2 separate regions of the Homo sapiens genome follow, and region 1 is linked to region 2. Evidence: fine-mapped expression QTL. Tissue or cell type: pancreas. Region 2 holds a variant in brackets; the other region holds the start of a gene. All regions are shown on one strand. Distances are from middle to middle.

The links. PIP is the estimated chance that this variant, and not a neighbour inherited with it, causes the effect.
Region 1: TMEM184A starts here. The variant in region 2 is fine-mapped to the expression of TMEM184A in pancreas (GTEx, PIP 0.99).

Annotation. Positions count from the first base shown.
Region 1 is chr7:1,551,182-1,559,278 of GRCh38, forward strand. It overlaps TMEM184A (transmembrane protein 184A), which reads right to left and starts at 5,024. Exons shown (of 9, transcript NM_001097620.2): 1 at 4,933-5,024; 2 at 4,085-4,303. The coding sequence starts at 4,303. RefSeq lists silencers at 3,550-3,732, 5,100-5,169, 5,210-5,299 and enhancers at 3,842-4,642, 4,212-4,506, 4,643-5,442.
Region 2 is chr7:1,747,464-1,755,560 of GRCh38, forward strand. It overlaps ELFN1 (extracellular leucine rich repeat and fibronectin type III domain containing 1), which reads left to right. Exons shown (of 4, transcript NM_001128636.4): 4 at 1-483. Among named protein-coding and RNA genes, the nearest start is that of ELFN1-AS1, 9.2 kb to the left of the region's middle. The variant G/A (reference allele first, on the strand shown) is at 4,394.

The DNA of each region.
Region 1 (8,097 bases), 200 kb before region 2:
GCCCTGGGCGCAGGAGGGTTCGCGTGAGAGCCGGGTCCACCCGGTACCCCTGCACCAGCCCAGGTGAGCCGGGAAGGAGGTGGGGGTGGGCGCAGGAGGGTTCGGGTGAGAGCCAGGTCCGCCTGGTACCCCTGCACAAGCCCAGGTGAGCCGGGAAGGAGGTGGGGGTGGGCGCAGGAGGGTTCGGGTGAGAGCCGGGTCCGCCTGGTACCCCTGCACAAGCCCAGGTGAGCCGGGAAGGAGGTGGGGGTGGGTGCAGGCCACCAGGCACCTTCTATGTTTGCATTTTCTAGTTTTCTACAATGGGCATCCTTATTACAATTAGAGAAAATAAATTGTTTGCCTATTGTAATTAGATACATACTTTTATACGTATTTACTATAGAAGTACATATAAGTATGAATGTATATGTTAAATACATATTTCTGGTTACAACTAAAAATAATACACATTTGAATAATTGACTTTTTATGGCCGGGTGCAGTGGCTCACACCTATAATCCCAGCACTTTGGGAGGCCGAGGTGGGTGGATCATTTGAGGTCAGGAGTTCAAGACCAGCCTGGCCAACATGGTGAAACACAGTCTCTACTAAATACACAAAAATTAGCCAGGCATGGTGGCGCGCGCCTGTAATCCCAGCTACTAGAGAGGCTGAGGCAGGAGAATCGCTTGAGCCTGGGAGGTGGAGGTTGCGGTGAACCAAGATTGCGCCACTGCACTCCAGCCTGGGCGACAGAGCGAGACCCTTTCTCAAAAAAAAAAAAATATTTTTTTGAGAAACATGGTCTCGCTCTCTTGCCCAGGTTTTTTTTGAGACAGGGTCTCGCTCTGTCGCCCAGACTGGAGTGCAGTGGTACAATCATGGCTCACTGCAGCCTTGAACTCCCGGGCTCGAGTGATCTGCCTACCTCAGCCTGCTGAGTATTGGGACTACAGGTGTGCACCACCTTGCCTGGCTAATTTTTGTATTTTTTGTACAGACAGGGTCTCACTGTGTTGCCCAGGCTGGTCTCAAAGTCCTAGGCTCAAGGGATCCTCCTGCCTCCGTCTCCCAAAGTGCTGGGACTATAGTCATGAGCCACTGCACCTGGCCTAAAATTTATTTTTTAAATTGGCAAATCAAAATTGTATGCATTTACAGTGTGCAGCGCGATGTCTGATATGTGTGTTCGTGGGGAATGGCTGAGTCAAACCCATTAACGTCTCCATTATCTCCCATACTTAGCATTTCTTTGCGGGGAGGACATGTAAAATGTACTCTCTTGGCAATTTTCAAGCATAGAATACATTGTTATTTATAACAGTCACCATGTTGTACAATAGGTTTTTTTTTTTTTTTTTTCTGAATAAGTTCCTTGGGCATGAGTGAGGGTCCTGTTTGTTCTTAGCCTGGGAATGGGAACGCTCACTCATTCCTTCATTCAGCAGGCGTTTCTAGAGCCCAGCTAAGTGTCCAACCCGGGGGACGGAGAGGGGACACGTCCCGGTCCTGGGCTGGGCAGACTCTCAGAAGGCACATTGGCTTTTGCTGTGGGGGCATCCAAAGGATGTGCACCCTTTGATTCCTAAGAATTTGTCCCTCCCTAGGGGCCAGGCACGGTGGCCCACGCCTGTAATCTTAGCACTTTGGGAGGCCAAGGTGGGCGGATTACCTGAGCTCAGGAGTTCGAGACCGGCCTGGTCAACAGGGCGAACTCCATCTCTACTAAAAAATACAAAAATTAGCCAGGCGTGGTGGCGGGCGCCTGCAGTCCCAGCTACTCGGGAGGCTGAGGTGGGAGGATGGCTTAAATCCGGGAAGCGGAGGCTGCAGTGAGCACTGATTGTGCCACCGGACTGCAGCCTGGGTCACAGAGTGAGATCCTGCCTAAAAAAAAAGAAAGCCTGGGAAAAAGTATGGGTGATTATAGTAGTGTTTGCCTTTAAACCTTTCTAGATTTTCCACGTTTTTATTTTTTTTAATTTTTAATTATTATTTTTTTTATTGAGACGGAGTCTTGCTCTGTTGCCCAGGCTGGGGTGCAGTGGCGCAATCTCAACTCACTGCAACCTCCGCCTCCCGGGTTCAAGTGATTCTCCTGCCTCAGCCTCCTGAGTAGCTGGGATTATAGGCGCGCACCACCATGCCCGGCTAATTTTTGTATTTTTAGTAGAGACAGAGTTTCCCCATGTTGGCCAGGCTGGTCTCAAACTCTTGACCTCGGGTGATCCACCCGCCTTGGCCTCCCACAATGCTGGGATTACAGGTGTGAGACACCACGCCTGACCGATTTTCCATGTTTTCTGTGAGGATACAACTCAACTACAGGGTCTTTGAGACAGGGTCAGCCGAGCCTGGGAGCTGGGCGCACAGGGGCTCCTGGGGAAGGCCTTCTGGAGGAGGTGCATGCGTGGCGGTGGGCGAGCAGAGGCTACGTGCACCTGGCCGCTTGGGGTGCAGCTCAGGGAGTTGGGGGAGGTTGGAGGCAGGAACAGACTCTTATCAGTCACACGCTCCCCGATGGTCCCTGGGAGGGACGGCATGACCAGCCATCAGGAGACCTCTCCCGGGGCTGGCGCTGCCTGGCTGGGTGACCTTGACAAGCCACTGTCCTCTCCGGCCTCGGTCCTCCCATGTATAAAGTGAGGGGGATCCAGCCACTCTGTGTCCTGCCTGGGACTCCTCACTCAAGGGTGACTCTGGCGGTGGGCTCAGGGGTGGGACAGGGCCTGAACTCCAGCCCAAGGGGTCTCCATGAGCCCTGTCTTGACTGCGAGGCCCCATGAAGCTAAAGCCACACTACAGCCGCGCACACACAGCCGGTTCCCAGGATTACAGCGGAAAGACGGCCTCCTCCGGGAAGCCCTCTCTGATGGCCTTACAGGAAGGGCCTGCCTCGGCACTGCCTCCGCGGCTCTGCACACTCCAGGCCACACTCATACACGTCTACCGTGGGTTCTGGTTATCTGTTCACAGCTCACTGCAACCTTGAACTGGGCTCAAGCGATCCTCCCATCTCAGCCTCCCAAGTAGCTGGGACTAACAGTGCAGGCCCCCATGCCCGGCTAATAAGCAGTTAATAAACTGTCACTGAGATGCTCCCTCGGAGACTTGTGGCCACCGGTGTCCCTGCCTGCCAGTCTCCTGATGGCCCCCTGCCCCAGCTCACCTACAGATCCATTCCCTACACCAGTGCCCCGTGCACCCGGGAAGCAGCTCTGCCCTCAGCCCAGCCCTCCACAGCCTTCCTGGGCTCCCAGCACCCCCTGAAAGCCACCTCACCGCACTGGGGTCAAGGGCTCTGGACAAATCCCTGCAGCCGTGTGGCCCTCGCGGGCCTACACACGCACTCCCACCCCACCCCTGCGCACACCGCCCTGGCCTCTCTGTGTATCTGAGTCTCTCAGGAGGGTCCTGTCCCTGACTCCCTGCCCTCTCTGCCCAGCCCCTGCCCTCGGGCACCACTTCCTCCTTGCCCCTGCCTGGCCCTTCCTTGCCACAGCGCCTGGCCGCTTCTCTACCTGGGGGCTGTTCTGTTCCCACCTGGGGACTGCTCCGGGTCGGGGGCTGTGTGTGGCTTCGGGCTTGGGGAAGTTGCTTCTCGCCCATCTCCTGCACAGGAGTCCCGGTCCCTCTAACAAGCTGTGACCTTTGCTCCCCAGCTCCCTACAGAGCAAAGTCCAACCCCCTGCCAACCTCCCACCAGCCTTCTCCAGGGTGTCACGCCTCTGGAAGGAGAAGGCCCCTTCCCCTTTCCAGCTATGTGAGCCTGGGAAAGACCTCTGGTCTCTCTGAGACTCAGTCTTCTTGTCTGTGAAATGGGACCACACTGCAGACCTCAGTGAGCCGAGTGACGAGCCTGTGAAATAGCCAGGGGTGCCCGGTGGGCGCTCTGCCCTCAGCCTGGCAGAGATCTCCCCATTTTCAGGCCCAGCTCCCACATGCCACATCCTGGGGAAGCTCATCCCCTCCCCCGTGCCCTGGCCGATCCCACTTCTGACAGCGTCTATAGCAGCGGCACCCAGGGGGACCGGGCTGAGCCACGGCCACGTCCTGTGGAGACCAAGGTCCTGAAGGAGGCTCGGGGGCGGAAGGGCTTACCTGGTGGCAGGTGAGCACCAGGGCAGTCCACACGAAGATCCCCGAGACGCCTCGGGCCAGTGCGGAGGTGAGGAAGAGCCAGGGGGCCCCCTGGGAGCTGTTCCCCATGTGGTCCATCTGCGGCCCAGCTGGCACAGCCGGTGGGGGGCTGGGCTGCGGCCAGTTCGCTGACACCAGGGGGACGCCGGCTGTCTCCAGGATCCCTGAGACATTACTCATCTGCAGAGGGAGGGAGGACACACACCGGGAGGAGTGAGGGCAAAGGTACTGGCTCCCGGCAGCAGGAAGCAGCGGGGGAGGGAGGAGACAGTGAGACGGGAGCTGAGGCTGAGCCACCCACCAGGCCGCACCCCCCACACGGACACCAGCGCCAGGCCCGGCTCCCTCCCTGCTCCGAGCTCAGCCATCGAAGCTCACCCATCAACCACCTGCGACCTGAGGGTCCCACCTCAATTCCCCCTTGTAAAACCAGCTTCCAACTCCGAGTCTCAGGCTTGCAGGGAGCCTGCTTCTTAGGGGACAAAGACCGTCTTCCAGTGGGGCAGAAGAGGGGGAACCCCTGCCGCCCTGCCTGCCCGGGAGGGCTGGGGAGCGGGCGCAGACCAGCACTGCCTGCCCCGGCAGGAGGGGGTGTGCAGCCACCCTCATGGGAGGAGCCGGCCCTCACTGGCTCTGGGACCTGTCCACCCACCTGGGAGCCCGGCTTTGCTGGGGTTCTTGGCAGCCCTGGGTGCCTGTTCCATCTCCCACTAACCTGCTGGGGCCCTGAGTCCACCCTCTCCCACACTCGCAGCCCAGTCCAGCCTCCTCCTCTCCCTCTGGTCTGCGGTCACAGGGCCCAGCTCTACCTTTGCTGGCAGGAAGCACCTGGCCCAGTCCAGGGAGGCCTGGCCTCCAGGGAAGCCTAGCTGGTCATTCTCATGGCCACGTGGCCCCAACTGGAGGCCCCACTGTGGGTGCGGCAAGGCCAGGATCTGAAGGGCTGTGCCAGGCTGGGGCGGGGCGGCCAGTGCCTCACGTCCCCAGTGGCCCACCTGGGCCCCAGGCTGCAGGCCCGTCCCCTCCTGTCCCCTCCCACGGCTGACACCCTATCCTCCCGGTTGTTTGCTGGGTGGCAGCTGGCTCCCAGGAACCTGCTGGCCGCCTGGCGCCCTCACCTGCCTATGCCAGACGGCCAGGCAGCTGCCACCTGGTGGGGACACGTGGGAGAGGTCTGCGGCAGGCCAAGGAGGGCCGGGCTGCAGGAGGAGGGGTGGAGAGCTAATGGTACAGGGTTTCTCTGGGGGGTGACAGGAGTCCTGAAATGAGGTAGAGGCGGCAGGCACACAGCACTGTGGATATACTTACCGCCACCGAATCGTTCACTTAAACCTGGGTAAATTGATGTTATGTGAATTTCATCTGAATTAAAAAAAAAATCCACGCCCCAAGAGATGAGTTGAAAACATTTGTTTTCTGGGCCGGGCGTGGTGGCTCACGCCTGTCATCCCCACACTTTGGGAGGCCAAGGTGGGTGGATCACTTGAGGTCAGGAGTTCGAGACCAGCCTGGCCAACATGGTGAAACGCCGTCTCTACGAAATACGCAAAAATTAGCTAGGTGTGGCAGCGTGCACCTGTAATTCCAGATACTCAAGAGGCTGAGACAGGAGAATCGCTTGAACTCAGAAGGCGGAGGTTGCAGTAAGCTGAGATCACACCACTGCACTCCAGCCTGGGGACAGAGGGAGACTCTGTGTCCAAAAAAAAAAAAAAAAAAAAAAGGAAATATTTCTGGTTTTTGTGGATCAAGGCAGGAGAGGGGGAGTGACAGCCCAGTCCCTGGACCCTTTGGGGTCTGGCAAGGGGTTGCGGGGCCCTGAGGGTCCCTGTCACCCCCATGCAGAGGCCCCTGTGGAGAAAAAACTCACTCACCCCGGCTCCTGGGAGAGGGATGTGGGCCCTCAGCCCACCTCTTGTCCTGTTCTGGTTACGCTTGGGCTCATGCCGCTGGGGCCACCATTACCAAGTCCCGCTCCATGCCCGCAACGGATCCACACACTCCTTGTCCTTCATATCTCCTACCCTCCCACAGCCCTGAGCAACAGGGCTCAAGGGGTTGAGGCTGGAATGACTGGAGCCACTGTTCCCCTTTTATTTTTAATTAATTTATTTTTTGAGACGGAGCCTCGCTCTGTCGCCAGGCTGGAGTACAATGGCGCGATCTCGGCTCACTGCAACCTCCGCCTCCTGGGTTCAAGTGATTCTCCTGCCTCAGCCTCCCGAGTAGCTGGGATTACAGGCGCCCACCACCACACCTAGCTAATTTTTGTATTTTTAGTAAAGACGGGGTTTCACCACGTTGGCCAGGCTGGGCTTGAACTCCTGACCTCAGGTGATCTGCCCGCCTCAGCCTCCCAAAGTGCTGGGATTACAGGTTTGAGCCACCACGTCCGGCCTGTTCCCCTTTTAGAGATGGGAACGAGAGGCGCATCAACGCGTCCAGCATCCTTGAGGGGTCCGTGAGGGGCCCGGGCTGAGGCCCATCCTTCCCTGGGACACCCTGCCTGCTTTTCCCAACTCCTCCACTGACACTGTCCCTCCAGGGAGGCTCCCAGGTGGGGAACAAGCTCAGGAAGTCGTGCCCAGCTCTCAGGCCCGCCTTGCCTAACCTCCCCATCAGCGCCCACCCGGGCCCGGGCCCAGAGCCACAGCATGCACACCCTGGCTGGGCCCTCCTGGAGCCTGCCTGCTCCCCAGGCAGGGACCTTCTGGACCAACCGACCCTGCTCCCGGGTGACTCTGTCCTGCAGCCTCAGGCGTCACCTCTGGAGAGACCATCCCCGCTGTCCCATCACCCTCCTCACTGTGTGTGTGACTCCCTGTCCACCTGTCTGTGTTTGCTGCTGGTCCTCCCTCTGCAGGAGCTGCCAGAGCCTAGAGCTGTGCCCTGTCCATGCTCGGGGCACAGGGCTTGCGGGGTGGGGGCTGTCCTGCTGAGGCGGTGACCCTGTGGGCTAAGGTCTCCCTTTGGCCAGGCAGGGGTGCTGGAAGGCGGTCCCCAACTTCCATCCAGCTGCATTCCCACTGCAGCCACAGGTACTCCTGCCGGCCTCCCACCCGGCCTGCAGAGCCCCAGGCAGTCGGCTCAGCGCGTGTGGATGTCGCCCTCTGGCTGTGTCGGGATCACCGTCACGGACAACTATGAAGTGACGATGGCTGGGGGCCCGTTTGAAGGGTGAAGACTTTGGTGCCTGGGCATGCGCAGAGCTGGAAGGGACCGGGAATCCCCTCATCCAACTCGCTCATGCTACAGGCAGGGAAACTGAGGCCCCAGCCCCTGCTTGATTTGCGTCCAGCCCCCAGCACAGGATGAAGCCTCGGGCCCCTCCCTGGGCTGACGGTGGGAATGGCTGTGCAGACAGCAGGAGGCACTGTGGCTAGATGTCAGCAGGACCGTTTTGGCTGGAGCCAGCAGAGCCAGGCTTCTGGGAGGGCTCTGGCTTCGGGCAGGCTCAGGGCTTGGGCCCCGGACACAGACTGAGGGACCTCCAAAGCTCTGTCTTCCGCCAGAGGCAGATCCTCTGTGGAAAAAGGTGGGGTTTTCTCACAGGGCCAGCTGGGCACTGGACAGGGAGGCCTGCTGATCTCCTCAGCCCACAGCTGTCCCGGCTGAGCCAGATGCGCCAGCTCGGGAACCGTGGACCAAGTGTACTGGTCTGGGGATGTCAGGAGCAGGGCCTGGTCCCCAGGGAGGGGCAGTCGGGAGGTTGACCGCTCTGCCACCTGCTCACAGGGCTCGCCGGCTGATCGAGGCCTCACCCGGTGCTGGTGTCACAGCCTCTGCGCCCGGTCACAGGAGGCGGCAGGGCCGGCTGGGCCTGATTTTTCTGGCGGGGGCGGGACACTGACCAAGCCCATTGCAGGACAGACCTGTCTGCCCAGATCCAGGCGACGGGGCCCTCTGACCATTGTTCACTGCGTCCAGGTGCCCAGAGCTGTGGGGAGGCTGAGAAGCCGCCCAGCCAGTCCCAC
Region 2 (8,097 bases):
TTAAAAAAATATAATAAAAGACAAGTTATTTTAAAAAGACATAAAATGCCATCCGTGGGGGGTGTGGCCGGCGTGGCCACCTCGGGGCCCCTCACGTGATCTCCTCGGTCCGTGGTTTTCTGTGGATTCTCTGTCCAGTCCGTCTCTTCATTGCCGCCTCCGGAGTCCACTGCAGAGGGGCAGAGTGAATGCCGGCGGCCAAGTGGCCTCCGGGACAGGTCCTGGAGCCCTGCTGGACTCAGGGTGGGTGGAGGCTGTGCCTGTGGACGGCCGGGGTGGCCAGGACGGCCAAGGGCTGGGAGGCACGTCCCCCAGCCCAGCCCCCATGTACACTGTAGTCGTTCTATTGTACAGAAAAAAATATTTCTATATTTGCAATGTTTGCTGTAAAATGAGAAAGAAAAAAAGACTATGTCTACTAAAAAAAAAAAAAAAAAGACTATGTCTACTTAAAAAAAAATCTGCAAAGGAAAACAAATCAAATGCTTGTTTGTCCTGGGTTTTTACTGTGGGTTTCAGGGAAAGAGTTGAGGTTTCTTTTATGTCCCGTTTAGGGGGTGGTTTTACTGATTTTGGCCTTGGGGTGGGGACACGCTGTGCTCTCTTGGCTAGAGCGTGGTGTGACCAGGGGGGTGCACGTGGGAACCCTTGGGAGGTGGGCGGCCCGCACTGGGCTGGAGCGTGTCTGAGAGCCGGTGTGGACAGGGTAGGCGGGAGCCAAGCTCAGGTGGCGGCGGGAGGACGGGCGGGAGCAGGGTCTTGGTGTGGTGGATCCACGGTGCGGGGCTGCTTCTGTGTGTGTCTGGCTGTGCGTGCCAGCGGGGTGTGTGCAGAACCCAGCAGCCGAGGGGGTGTGAGTGGGCCTGGGACGCCCAGAGGCTCTTGAGTGAGGTTCCGGGTGAGCCGATGGTGTGGGTTTGCATGTGATTGAGCGTGAGCGTGAGGTGGTTGGAGGGTGTGTCTGTGTGAGGGCGGGTTCCCCTGCTGTCGCCAGAGCCCCACCTACAGGAAGTGCCCAGAGACCCCTAATTCTTCGGGGGTCTCTCAGGACGCTGAGCCCGGAGCCAGACCCTGCACTGCAGCCCCCTCCATATGCATCTCACCCACCACCCCTCCAGGCAGCACGCCCTGGTGTGGGCCCCCGTTCTGAGTGAATAAGAGGCTGGAGTCCATGTGGGACGAGCACCAGGTTGTTTAGCATCCCCAGGGGAGGATGGAGAGAGTCCCTGGCTTCCTGCTGCCCAGAGCACAGGGTGCCCCTCATCCCACCTACAGGAGCCAGAGGGAGACGCTGAGGACGAGACTGGACTCCCAGGCCCTCGAATCCACCTGCCAGCTGAGTGGGGGTTTTGTACCCACCCCAGGGAAACAGCCCCCAGCCCTGCATCCCACGCAGAGCTGCCTTTCTGCTCAGGGGGAGGGCCCTGTGAGGAAGGGGAACACCTCACCCTGGGCCCGGACACCTGCCTGATGCCGGGACTGCTGAGTCAAAGCTCCCTGTCACCCCTCTCTTCCTGTCTGGATGGCCCCTCCCCTGTCCTTCCTAAAGTCCCGGCTGCTGAGCCCCCACCCCACCCCTCCATTGATGGCAGACCCACCCCCACTCTGAACTCTGGCACAGACCCAGGGAGGGAGGAGGCTGCGGCTGGAGCCGGGTCCCAGAGGCAACAGGAACCCGGGAGACTCCAGGGCAGGAACCGGAGGGATGAAGCCGGTTTTCAGGCTCTGACGGGTCCCCCAAGAAAGGACCCAGTCTCAGTCTGACCCAGTGGGGGACAAGGAGGGAGGGAGGAAGGGCCAGTGCAGGTAGGAGCAGGGGCAGCCTCTGCTTGCACGCCCTGGGTGACGGGAAGCTCACCCCTCTCTTCTGTAGCTGTCTCCAGCTTTCGGGACCTCCCTTACAGCAGAAGCCCAGGGGGCTGTCCCCCAGGGGCCACAGAACTGAGGGCCCATCTGTCCCCTCCAGGTTAGCCAGCCCGATCCTGCCACCTGCACCCCGGTCACCCCACCAGGGACCTGAGAGTGTGAGGCCTGCTCCGGGGGTGCACGCCCGGGTGGGCTCCACGGGCACCCTGTGACTCAGCCCTCCAAAGGGGGCCATTTCTGAGGACGCTGCATCACCAGCTCTTCGCCGTTTGACCCAAGGTTTCTGGCCAGCCCGGGACTCTCAGCCCTGGGCAGCTCCCTGTCCTCCATGAGGGGTCCCGGGAGGGCATGAGAGACCGCTGGAGACCACAACGCCAGGCCCAGGGGAGAGGAGCGGGGACCAGGAGCGGGTTCCAGGGCTGACGGGTGGAGGCCCAGAGAGGGCCCCAACCTGCCCAAGGTCACATAGCAACTCGATGACAGTCTGGTCATGGGACAGAGAGGTGGCCAGGCCTTCTCAGCCCGCTGCTCCCTTTCACTGAGGAGCGAAGATGGGCTATTTATAGGAAATGCGGGAGAAGGGCAGACACAGAAGAGAGGCGCCTGCCTTGGGAACACCGGGCAGCTGGCCAGGAGTCAACGGCCCACAGAGGAACAAGGGAAAATGGCAGGCAGCGAGGTGCGGGGTCCTCAACAGCCAGGACACCCCGCCCGGGAGCTCAGCCCTCCTGGAAGCCGCGGGGCTTGGCCCCGAGTGTCTGCAAACGCCCAGCCAGTCCTGGGAAAAAGAGGCCCGAGTTCCCGTGCCCTTGCTTGAAGGTGTCATGGTGGGGGTGACAGGACATAAGCAGGAGGAGACACACACTTAGGAAGCGGCTACTGTGTGCAGGGCTCTGTGCCAAGCTCTGTGTGGGCGCAGGGAGGAGCCCAGCCCGGCCCCGGCCCCCCGGGGAGCTCACAGGCTGGCAGAGAACTCAGTGCAGAGGTGGGTGACCCGGCTCAGGGCAGCAGGGGAGGCGCTGGAGGTCTGGGAAGGATGGGAACTCCTGACTGGGAAGAGCCGGGAAGGCTTCCTGGAAGGGGTGGTATTTGGTTTGGGCGAGGAAGGAGGTGGAGGTTGCCAAGGTGAGAGGGGTTGGTGCCCTGTGGGCTCAGAGCTGGGCTCAGGAGCAGGAGAAAAACCTGCCAGACCCAGCCTTGCCCTGCAGCTGGGATGGGTGCCCAGCTTCCGAGGGGCAGCCCTGGAGGGCAGGTCTTGCTCGTTTGTGAGACCAGGGCTAAGCCACAGCGAGGCCTCAGGCCCAGGCCGTACCCCTACGACCGTGTGACCATAGCAAGCCACTGGCCCTCTCTGCCTCAGTCTCCTCGTTTGTCCAGTGGGGGGGATGCCGATGCCTGTCCCTCCTGCAGTGCACTGGTTATCCATTGCCGTGATCATGCTGCCTAACCCACAACCACAGTGCGGTATGGCCCCTCGGGGGGCGGCTGGCAAGAGGGCACACTCTCATGTCACGGGGCACAGGGAGGACCGGGTTCTTCCCCACAGTCTCCCATCCTCCATCGAGCCAGCACGGGCTGGTTCTTGCGGCGACAGCCGAGGGAGCAAACCCCAGGGTCACATCTGCTGGCATCCCACAGGCCAGGGTGAGCCGCGGGGCCGAGCTCAGAGGAAAAGGGTGGACAGGGCGCCCCAGCCCAGGGGCCTGTGGCCAAGGCTGCAGACACAGAGGGCAAAGACAGGGGGGGCCTCTGTGCACCGAGGCCTAAGGCATGGCTGAGTCCAGGTGTCCCCTCCCGGGGCAGAGGGCAGAGCAAGAAGAGCAGGAAATCCAAGGCCCCAGGTCTCTGCCACCCACGCATTCACTCAGCACCCAAACGCAAAGAGCCTACTGTGTACCAGACACGCTGCCTGCCACTCCCCACCGAGAACACCTCAGCTGCGGTGGCCTACCCTGTACCAGACACGCTCCCCACCAAGAATGTGTCAGCCACGGTCCCGACAGGAAAGAGCAGACACCCCAAAGTAGAATCCTTCAAGGGGTTACCTACAAAGGGGCCATTTCCAGAGACACCAAGCTGACGGCACACCTTGGCCCCCTGGGAGAGGGGGAGGAGGAGAGCCCCCGAACCCGGAGGGAGAGAGAGAGGTGCAGAGAGGCCCACGGGGCCCTGGAGAGGGACCTCAGGGGAAGTTCCCAGTGGGCCTCAGCAGCCTCGCAGGAGGACTGGGGACACATGCCCACCCCCGCTTGTCCCCCGATCTCCCTCCCATCTCCTGCTGGGCTCCCTGCTGGCTGCATGGCCAGGACATCAGGGAGCCCGTGATGGGGCCCGCAGGGCTCAGTCCACAGACAGCAGGGGTGAGAAGGTTCAGAGACAACCCGGACTGGGTGATGGGGGAGGCTGGCCTGGGGGCAGCCACAGAGGAGGGGGCCGTCATCTCCACTGGGGACAGGGAGGCTTTTAGAGGAGGTGATCGCTCAAGACTGAAGGTGGCCGGGCGCGGTGGCTCGCGCCTGTAATCCCA[G/A]CACTTTGGGAGGCCGAGGCGGGTGGATCACCTGGGGTCAGGAGTTCAAGACCAGCCTGACTAACATGGTGAAACCCCATCTCTACTAAAAATATAAAAATTAGCCTGGTGTGGTGGCGGGCGCCTGTATTTCTAGTTACTTGGGAGGCTGAGGCAGGAGAATCGCTTGAACCCGGGAGGCGGAGGTTGCAGTGAGCCGAGACGGCGCCGCCGCACTCCAGCCTGGGCGACAGAGCGAGACTCCGTCTCACAGAAAAAAAAAAGTACACAAAGCAACTACAGCAACAACAAAAATCAGACAAAAAGACCCTGAAGGACAATCAGGAGCTGGCTTGGCAGAGACAAGGCGGCAGGGACGGGGAGCGGACTTCCACCCAGAAAGGATGGCGGGGGCCAAGGTGCAGAGAGCACAGACCCCGACCCCACCCAGAGGGGCCACCATGGGGCAGTGAGGGGGCCCGGCCTGCTGAGACCAGGGATGGGGCGGAGCCAGGCTCAGAGGCCTGCTTTGCAAGTGTGAAGAAATGACAGTCGGCCTCTGTGCATAGGAAGCCATTGAAGTCTTCTATTCTATTCTATCCTAATTTTATTGAGACAAGGTCTTGCTCTGTCACCCAGGCTGGAGTGCAGTGGCACGATCATGGCTCACTGCAGCCTCAAATTCCTGGGTTCAGGTGTTCCTCCTGCTTCAGCCTCCCAAGTAGCTGGGACCACAGGTTCGCGCCACCACACCTGGCTATTTTGTTTGTTTGTTTGTTTTATAGAGACGGTGTTTTGCTATGCTGCCCAGGCTGGTCTTGAACTCCTAGACTCAAGTAATCCACCTGCCTTGACCTCCCAAAGTATTGGGATTACAGGTGTGAGCTGCCTCACCCAGCCAGTATGTTAAAGAATAATAACTTTTATTGATTTTTGTTTTATCTCAAAAGTAATCCTTTTGCTACATAAACTTCAGAAAACAGTTAAAGAAGGAAACAGAAATCATTTACTCTCCCCACCCTGAGCTAACCATGGGAATATATTGGTATCTGCCTTTCTAGCCCTTTCTCTCTAGAAATGCAGCAGGCTTGAAATCTCTACCCCGCAGGTGGATATGCAAAGAGGTATCTCTTTATTTTCTGTAACAACAGGTGTTTGTAGCCTCTGTTTCCCCCAGATGGGGTGTAGGGCGTGGTGCATGAAGATGGGGAAATAACGTGTGTTTTAGGATCCAGTGGAGAAGAAAACGTTGATGGCGAACGGAAGAGGGAAAGAATTGCTGGAGCAATGTTTGAGTAAGACGGGACGAGACACTGTGCTCCATGGAAGGGCCGGGCTTGGCCAGACAGGTCTTGGACTTGGCCGTTGCTCCTCCTTAGCGGGAGAGAAGGTGGGGATGTGGGCTCTGGCGTGGGAGCTGGGGGCACACGCGGGGCGTAGGGACAGTCTCTTTGGGTGACTGCGATTTTCTCAGCATCTCTTCTCACCCCATTGCATTGCCCTTTTGTTCTACTTTCTAGGAGTCTTTAAAATTTTTACTTTAAATTTGAGGTAATTATAGAGTCACAGGAAGTTGTAAAAATAGAGTCACCCAGCTTCCCCCAGCGGTGACACCTTACGTAACTGGCGTACAGTATCAAAACCAGGAAGTCGGCTTGCACCTGGGTGTAATTTTGTTAACTAGACTAAGATCTGATTCAGTTCCTAGCAGCCTGTACACGCATTCACCTGCGTGGACGTGTGTGTAGTTCTTTGCAAACTTACCCCCCGTATATAGATTTCAGTAACCACCGCCCCAGTCGAGATTCAGAACTCTTCCGTCACCACAGGGATCTTGTCCCCCCCACTCCACCCCAACGCTACCCCTGCCTGGCAGCCACACATCTCTTCTCCGTTTCTGTCATTTTGAGAAGGTTATATGAATGGGATCATGCCCTGTGTAACCTTTGAGGTGTTTTTCGCCCACTCAGCGTAAGGCCCTTAAGATCCACCCAAATTCTTTTTTTTTTTTTTTTTTTTTTTGAAATGGAGTTTTGCTCGTTGACCAGGATGCAGTGCAATGGCACGATCTCGGCTCACTGCAACATCTGCCTTTCTGGTTCAAGCGATTGTCCTGCCTCAGCCTCCCAAGTAGCTGGGATTACAGGCACCTGCCACCACGCCCGGCTAAGTTTTGTATTTTTAGCAGAGACAGGGTTTCACCATTTTGGTCAGGCTGGTCTCGAACTCCTGACCTCAGGTGATCTGTCCGCCTTGGTCTCTTAAAGTGCTGGGATTACAGGCGTGAGCCACCACCGCACCTCGTCTACCCAAGTTCTTTTATGGGATCAACAGTTTAGTTTGTTCCTTTTCATCGCTGAGTAGTATTCCTTTGTATAGATGACACACCCAGGTTTATTTAACCATATTCACCTGTGGAAAAACATTTGGGTGGTTTTGCACTTTGGAGCCATTACAAATAAACTGCTATGAACATTCACGTGCAGGCCTTGGTGTGAACTTAAGTTTTCATTTTTCTGGGGTTAATGCACAGACATGCAGTTGCTGGGGTGCATAGTAAGTGCATGCTGGCTGCTCAAATGTTTTTCAGGGTGGCTGCGCCATTTTTTATCACCACCACCAATGTATGCGAGATGCAGTTTCTCCACACCCTCACTGGCATTGGGTCGTATCACTATTTTCTGTTTCAGTCGTTCTAATAGGGTGTAGTGATCTCATTGTGGTTTAATTTCTATTTGCTGGTATCTACTGATGGTGAACACCTATTCATGTGAAACCTATTCATGTGCTTATTTGCCCTCTGTAGCTCTTCTTTGATGAAATGTCTCCTTACATCTTTTTTCCCTTTCTCTTCCTTCCTTCCTTCTTTCCTTCCTTTCTTCTTTCTTTTTTTCTTTCTTTCCTTTCTTTCTTTCTCTTTCTTTCTCTTTCCTTTCTTCCTTCCTTCCTTCCTTCCTTCCTTCCTTCCTTCCTTCCTTCCTTTCCTTCTTTCTCTTTTTTGACAGAATCTCACTCTGTCACCCGGGCTGGAGTGCTGTGGCATGATCTCAGCTCACTGCAACCTCTGCCTTCCTGGTTCAAGCAAGTCTCCTGCCCCAGGCTCCCGAGTAGATGGGATTATAGGCACCCGCCACCACAACCGGCTAAGTTTTGTATTTTTAGTAGAGACAGGGTTTCACCATATTGGTCAGGCTGGTCTCGAACTCCTGACTTCAGGTGATCCACCCACCTCAACCTCCCAAAGTGCTGGGATTACAGGCGTGAGCTGCCGTGCCCAGCCTTTTTTCCCATTTTCTAAATGTTTCGTTTGTTTCTACTGTGGGGTCTTAAGTGTTCTTTACATTTTTCTAGAAACGACACCTTTGTCAGATGTGTGCTTTGCAAACATTTTCTCCCTGCCTGTGGCTTGTCTTTTCATCCTTTGAATGCAAGCATTTTTTTTTAACGTTTTGAGGTCTAGTTGATCCATTTTTCACTTTCGTAGATCATGCTTTTGGTACCACATTGCCGAGCCAGTGGTCCTGAAGATGTTCTAGTATTTCTGCTATATTTTATTTTAGAAGATTACAGTTTACTTTTTGCATTTAAATTCGTGGCCTATTTCGGATTAATGTTCGAAAGCGCCGGGATGGTGGGCGTGAGCCAATACGCCCAGCCAATCCCTCTGCTTTTAATAAGTGCCGTCACCTTCAGCTGTGCCCAGTGTCCTTAAGTCCAAAGTGTTC